2 linked regions of the Homo sapiens genome follow. The protein of the gene in region 2 purifies or fractionates together with the protein of the main gene of each other region. This does not show direct contact. Each region holds a gene or a part of one and is shown on either strand. Other genes may lie near its edges.

The links. The genes of interacting proteins can lie anywhere in the genome.
Region 1: the proteins of QDPR (region 2) and ZDHHC5 purify together in Homo sapiens (co-immunoprecipitation; one large-scale study listed by IntAct). This does not show direct contact.

The regions. Positions count from the first base shown.
Region 1 is NC_000011.10:57,692,114-57,695,613, forward strand, and holds part of ZDHHC5 (palmitoyltransferase ZDHHC5), read left to right. Parts: intron 1-497; coding exon 498-589; intron 590-1,669; coding exon 1,670-1,802; intron 1,803-3,500. UniProt on the Homo sapiens protein: Palmitoyltransferase that catalyzes the addition of palmitate onto various protein substrates such as CTNND2, CD36, GSDMD, NLRP3, NOD1, NOD2, STAT3 and S1PR1 thus plays a role in various biological processes including cell adhesion, inflammation, fatty acid uptake, bacterial sensing or cardiac functions.
Region 2 is NC_000004.12:17,491,591-17,495,090, reverse strand, and holds part of QDPR (dihydropteridine reductase), read left to right. Parts: intron 1-2,750; coding exon 2,751-2,859; intron 2,860-3,500. UniProt on the Homo sapiens protein: Catalyzes the conversion of quinonoid dihydrobiopterin into tetrahydrobiopterin.

The sequences.
Region 1 (3,500 bases), on a different chromosome or scaffold from region 2:
TCAAGCAATTCTCCTGCCTCAGCTACCCAAGTAGCTGGGATTGCAGGTGCCTGACACCATGCCCGGCTAGTTTTTATATATTTTTATAGTAGAGATGGGGTTTTGCCATGTTGGCCAGTTTGGTCTCAAATTCCGGACCTCAGGTGATCCACCTGCCTCAGCCTCCCAAAGTGCTGGGATTACAGGTGTGAGCTGCCATGCCCAGCCCTTAATTGCTTATTCTTTATCTTAGTTTTCAATATTTAGAAAGCTATCCCATTTTACATGAGGAAACTGAGGTTTTGGGTCAGCAACCATGAGGTAGACCTAGGATTTGAACTAAGGACCCTGACTGTAGATTCCCTGCTCTTAACCATAACATATATAAATTTCTTGTGTTTTACTCATTTGCATAGCCCTCAGATAGTGAGTGCACAATAACTTGTAATAGATTTGTATTTTGGCCTTTGGAAGTCAAGGTCTCATCTTCTAACCTGGTATTTTTTTTCTCCCTCTAGGTTACGGGTAAATTCCGGGGAGGTGTGAACCCCTTCACCAATGGCTGCTGTAACAATGTCAGCCGTGTTCTCTGCAGTTCTCCAGCACCCAGGTACACCTATCCCTCTGGTCTAGTGTTTACCATTGGTCAGAACTTTTATCTTCTTTGGGCTTGTTCTGGTAAAGGAGGGGTCTGGTGAGAGCCTTTAGGAAGGGTTCTCTATCTTAGAATGTTAAGTACCCACTCTATCTTAGAATGGTAAGTAGTCTATCTTAGAATGGTAAGTACCTACATGCCCATCCTTTAGTGCAGTGGTCCCTAACCTTTTTGGCAGCAGGGACCGGTTTCATGGGAGACACTTTTTCCACAGATGGGGGCTGGGGTGGGGTGGTTTCAGGATGAAACTGTTCCACCTCAGATCATGAGGCATTAGATTCTCATGGCTGGGTGTGGCGGCTCACACCCAGCACTTTGGGAGGCCGAGGTGGGCGAATCACTTGAGGTCAGAAGTTCAAGTCCAGCCTGGCCAATATGGTGAAACCCCTTCTCTACTCAAAATACAAAAATTAGCTGGGCAAGGTGGCAGGCACCTGTAATCCCAGCTACTTGGGAGGCTGAGGCAGGATAATTGCCTGAACCCAGGAGGCAGAGGTTGCAGTGAGCTCAGAGCACACATACAACCTAGATTGCTTGCATGTGTAGTTTACAACAGGGTTCTAGGGTTTGCGCTCCTAAGAGAATCTAATGCCTCCGCTGATCTGACAGGAGATGGAGCTCAGGTGATAATGCTCACTGGCCCACTGCTTACCTCCTGCTATGTGGCCCAGTTCCTAACAGGCCATGAACCGGTACTGGTCTGCGGCCCAGGGGTTGGGGACCCCTGCTTTAGTGGACACTGTGAATTCCATTGATATTCTTCAGGTATTAAGGTAAATCTTTGAGAATTGAGGGTGAATAAGATACACTCTAAAGTGCTTTCCTTGAGCTAGGTATCTGCTCACAAAGGCCTAGTCCTGCTGCAGTCCTTCACAGAATCAATTCTGTTTATTGCTAAGTAAGTGATGGCCAAAACTGCAATTACTTTTTTACCAACCTAATAAAAATGGTTTACAGAAACAGTAGATACTTTAAAATATAAATGAATGAAAGCTCTCTCGCTGTGTCTCTCTCTCTCTCTCTCTCGACACTTAGGTATTTGGGGAGACCAAAGAAAGAGAAGACAATTGTAATCAGACCTCCCTTCCTTCGACCAGAAGTTTCAGATGGGCAGATAACTGTGAAGATCATGGATAATGGCATCCAGGGAGAGCTGAGGAGAACAAAGGTGAGGAATTTAGAGAAGTCAAGCTAGATAACATGGAAGTCTCACCCAAGGCAAAGAGACGGAAGCTTGCTTTAGTTTCCTTTGTGTTTTTTTTTTTTTTTTTGAGACAGAGTCTTGCTCTGTTGCCCAGGCTGGAGTGCAGTGGTGCTCAGTGCAAACTCTGCCTCCCAGGTTCAAGCAATTCTCCTGCCTCAGCCTCCCGAGTAGCTGGGATTACAGGTGTCCGTCACCTTGCCTGGCTAATTTTTGTATTTTTAGTAGAGATGGGGTTTTGCCATGTTGGCCAGGCTGGTCTCGAACTTCTGACCTCAGGTGATCTGCCCACCTCGGCCTCCCAAAGTGCTAGGATTACAAGCATGAGCCACCACGCCTGGCCCATATTTCTTACAGTGTTTATCACTTACTAATTTGGGTTAAAATTACTTAAATACAAATCTTGTTTTCTACATTAGATTTTTTTTTTTGAGAGGGAGTCTTGCTCTGTTACCTAGGCTGGACTCCAGTGGTATGATCTCAGCTCACTGCAACCTCTGCCTCCCAGGTTCAAGCGATTCTCGTGCCTCAGCCACCTGGGTAGCTGGGACTACAGGCATGCGCCACCACGCCTGGCTAATTTTTTTATTTTCAGTAGAGGCAGGGTTTTCCTATGTTGGCTAGGCTGGTCTCAAACTCCTGACCTGAAGTGATCCAACCCCCTCAGCCTCCCAAAATGCTAGGATTATAGGTGTGAGCCACTGCACCCGGCCCTACATTAGACTTTAAGTTCATTAACAATAGAAAATGAATTCATTCATTTCCATGTCTTCATAGGACTTAACAGCTTACAGCTAGATGGTAGGAGCTAAACAAGTAGTTGTTGGTTTAAATGGGCAAATAAGTGACAGAATTAAAACCTTTTTTAAACCCTTTCTTCTGCCAGGTACAGTAACTCATGCCTATAATCCCAGCACTTAGCGAGGCTGAGGTGGGAAGATCGCTTGAGTTCAGGAGCTCAAGACCAGCCTGGACAACATAGCGAGACTCCATCTCTAAAACAGACTAAAATAAAAAATAGAAAAATTTTCTGGCTGGGCGTAGTGGCTTATGCCTGTAATCCCAACACTTTGGGAGGCTGAGGTGGGTGGATCACCTGAGGTTGGGAGCTCGAGACCAGCCTGACCAACATGGAGACACCCTGTCTCTATTAAAAATACAAAATTAGCTGGGCATGGTGGCGCATGCCTGTAGTCCTAGCTACTTGGGAGGCTGAGGTAGGAGAATTGCTTGAACCCGGGAGGCGGAGGTTGCAGTGAGCCGAGATCATGCCATTGCACTCCGCCTGGGCAACAAGACCGAAACTCCATCTCAAAAAAAAATTAGCCAGGTGTGGTGGCACATGCCTGTAATCCTAGCTGCTTGGGAGGCTGAGGCATGAGAATCGCTTGAACCTGCGAGCCAGAGGTTGCAATGAGCCGTGATCACGCCACTGCACTCCAGCCTGGGTGACTGAGCAAGACTCCATTTCAAAAAAAAAAACCCAACTTTTCTTCATCTAATGCTATACCCAAACTGATTCTTGTGCCTTGTCTTCCAGTATAGTTGAGAAATATATGATAGGCAGTGGCTCATGTCTATAATCCCAACATTTAGGGTGGCCAAGGTGGGGTGATATTGCTTGAGGCCAGGGGTTCAAGACCAGCTTGGGCAACATGGCGAGAC
Region 2 (3,500 bases):
TGATGAGCTGGGAGAGTGGGAGAAGCATCACCCCCTCCCTGCCGCAGTCACTGGGAGAACATCTCCCTGGCAAGGTGCTGAGCAAAGCCCCTCCTACACCAGGCTGGGCTCCCTCCGCCCTGATCGGGTTCTGTGCGTGCCCTCCATGGTTTCCAAGGCCCTTGTTGGATGCAGTCTCCTTCCATCCTCAGCAGAGCCTTGTGAATAAATTGTGATCTGAGTTACCACTCCCACTGACAGATGGAAAAGCAGGCCCACAGAACCTGTGATTTTTTTTGGTGGCTGGAAAAACAGGAGTTAGGGCTGCACTTTTTGAATTCCAAGTTGATGACCCTTTTTGCAATTCCTTATTGCTGTCCGAGGAAAAAGAGTTGCCAGTGACCTGCTGAGAGTCATGAATGACAATAATGGCCAGGATTGAGTGTTCCTCTGTGCTCAGTACTGTACAAAGGGGATTTGTTAACCTGGAAAAAAAACAATCAATGGAGTTTTATTACTTGACATAATTAAGGAGGATGCTGGAAGTATTCTCCAAAGCAGCGTCTCTCCCAGGAGGGTTTCATGGGGTGATGGAGAGGGGAAAGGGTGTGTCATTGCATGTGGAGGAGGGGTCCCAGTGGCACAGATGCAGTGAGTCATCACGCCAGCACATAGTCACATGTTCTGGTGATGAAGCTGTAGCTCCTCCCGGGTGGAGACTGTAGCATGGTAATGAGGAAAGTCCACTTGGGATCATCTCTATAAGTTGCTGGTTTCACCTGACTTGGTGACTGCATTCCATGCAAGTTGTGGGAAAAACCAGGCTGAAGGGCAGGAGCCTGTGAAACAGGCTGATTGTTCAAGCTGATGAAACTCCTATAGTCCTTGGAGACCCTCCCTGTCTGCTACACTTGTACATGGTATTTTATTTGATTGTTGTATTATCCTTAGGATTTGGGATTGTCATTCCCATTTCACGAAATGGGAAACTGAGGATTCCAAGGTTTAGTAGCCTCTCCCAGTGTCAGTCACTAGCAAGCAGCAGAGCCTGGACACGAAGCCAGGTAGTCGGGTTCCAGGGCACATTACTTCTATTGATTTGATGGGAAACCTTCATTGAGTGCCTGTCCTGTGCTAAGGGTATGCTCACAATTAAGTACTCTATTCCTGTGTGTCGTTATGAGCCCCTCTGGATCACACCTGAGTTTATACTGATAAGGTGATTAGTAGGTTGGGGCCCCTAGACAGCCTCAGGATGGAGCTACTTCTTAGAATGACCAAGCAATTAGGAGGTTAGAACTTTCAGCTCCACCTACCGACCTCCTGGAAGGAAGCAGGGGCTGGAGATTAAGCTCTATAAAAACTTACAGATGTGATAAGCATCTGGGTTGAACACATGGAGGGCACTGGGAGGGTGGCGTGGCTGGAGCAGGCGTGGAAGTTCCATGCCCACCCCCTCTCCTACCCTGCCTCTGTGTCATTCCACCTGGCTGTTCCTGAGTTGTATCCTTTATAATAAACCAGTAACTATAAAAAAAGCGTTTGCCTGAGTTCTTCGAGCCATTCTAGCAAATTATTGCACCTGAAGAGGGGGTTGTGCAAACCCCTGATTAAGCTTGTTGGTCAGAAGTCTAAGTGGCCCAGGACTTGTGACTGCCATCTGAAGTAGGGTAGGTCTTGTGAGACTGAGCCCTTAAATCAGACGGGAGTACAGTGACGTGATCATAGCTAATTGCAGCCTTGACCTCCCCCAGGCTCAAGTGAACCTCCCACCTCAGCCTCCCGAGTAGCCGGGACCACAGGCATGTACCAGCAGGCATGGCTAATTTTTGTAGAGATGGGGTCCCACTACGTTGCCCAGGATGGTCTTGGAACTCTTGGGCTCAAGGGATTCTCCTGCCTCAGCCTCCCAAAGTGCTGGGATTAAAGGCACGAGGCACCACACCTAGCTGGGAGTTCTAATTGAATTGTCAGACACCCAGTTGGTGTCTGGAGACTTAGAGAATTGACTGTGTTAGAAAACACCTCAAACCCATTTTACAGATGCAGCAACTGAGGATTAGAGAGGTTTTGGGAACTTTCCCAGAATTTATTTAGTGGTAAGTGGAGGAACTGGGATTTGAATGTGTGTAATTTGACTTTAAGTCCTATACTCCAAGTGACTGCTTGATTTTGCTGTCCCATTGAGTACCTCTGTGTGCCAGGTGCTCACAAGCATTTAGTGATCAAAAGGTTCAGAACCCATTTCTTGCCTGGGCTTTAACCTCTCCATCAGCTTTGGCACAAGTCTGTGTGTGAGCCTGGCATGTACTCAACCTGTCTTGAGTCTTGGTTTCCTAAGAATAAAAATAAGATCAACCTTCTGGCTTTTGTAATAAATGTTAAGTGTTAGATGAATAGTAAGTACACCTGAAATGTCATGTCTCCTCCACTTTTCTCTCCATAAATGTTCATTTATCTTTTCTTCCTGGCCTCTTCTGGACCCTGGAATGCTGCAGCTTGGATGCACCGGTGGCCTGTGTGAAGCCTGTGTGTTCTTGGAAACTGGCCAGAGGCCATAATTCCCAACCCACGTGTTCCCATCCCCTCTTTCTCGTGGCTCTCTGCCATTTTTTGATGGGGGTTGGTGAGGGCGTCTGACCTGAAGGAGGAGGCCAGATGCAGCTATTTATAAAGTTTTTAGGGAATAGAGATCTCAAGAGAAGATTGCATGTCCTTGCTGTCCCCCTGGCCGCCAGTGGTCACTGAGCCATCTTCTCCCCATTTCCCAGGTATGATCGGGTACGGCATGGCCAAGGGTGCTGTTCACCAGCTCTGCCAGAGCCTGGCTGGGAAGAACAGCGGCATGCCGCCCGGGGCAGCCGCCATCGCTGTGCTCCCGTAAGTGCTTGGGGTTCCCTGGCTGCTGCCCACCTCTGCCCCACTGCTGCAGGTGACCGTTTGTCTGACTGTAGCTTTCCACAGGCGACCTGGGTGTGCTCTCACCTCTGGTTCTGAAACACACCAAAGTCTCTTAAGATACTTATTATCTTAATCTGTTTGAATTGCTCTAACAAAATACCTTAGACTGGGTGATTTATAAACAGCAGAAATGTATTGCTCACAGTTCTGGAGGCTGGGAAGTCCAAGATGAAGGCACCAGCAGATTTGGTGCCTGGCGAGGGCTCATTCCTCATAGATGGCGCCTTCTATATGTGCTCACACGGTGGAAGGGGCAAATGGGCTCCCTCCAGCTTCCTTTATAAGCATGCTAATCCCCTCCTAAAGGCCCCCACTTGTCTCCTGCAGACCCCACCTCTTAATACTATTATGTTGCAGTTTGTGTTTTGTATGTGAGTTTGAGGGGGATACATTCAGACCATAGCAATACTTCCAGTTTTGGGTTCTCCTGGGCTGTCCAGAATGTTTGATTGGCTGGTTGGATGGGTCTGTCTTTTTTGCCTCTTTTTTTCCTCTCCCTTTCTTTTCTCCCTTCATTTCTTCCTTTAAAATTAGACTACACATTTTACTTTTTTATATGT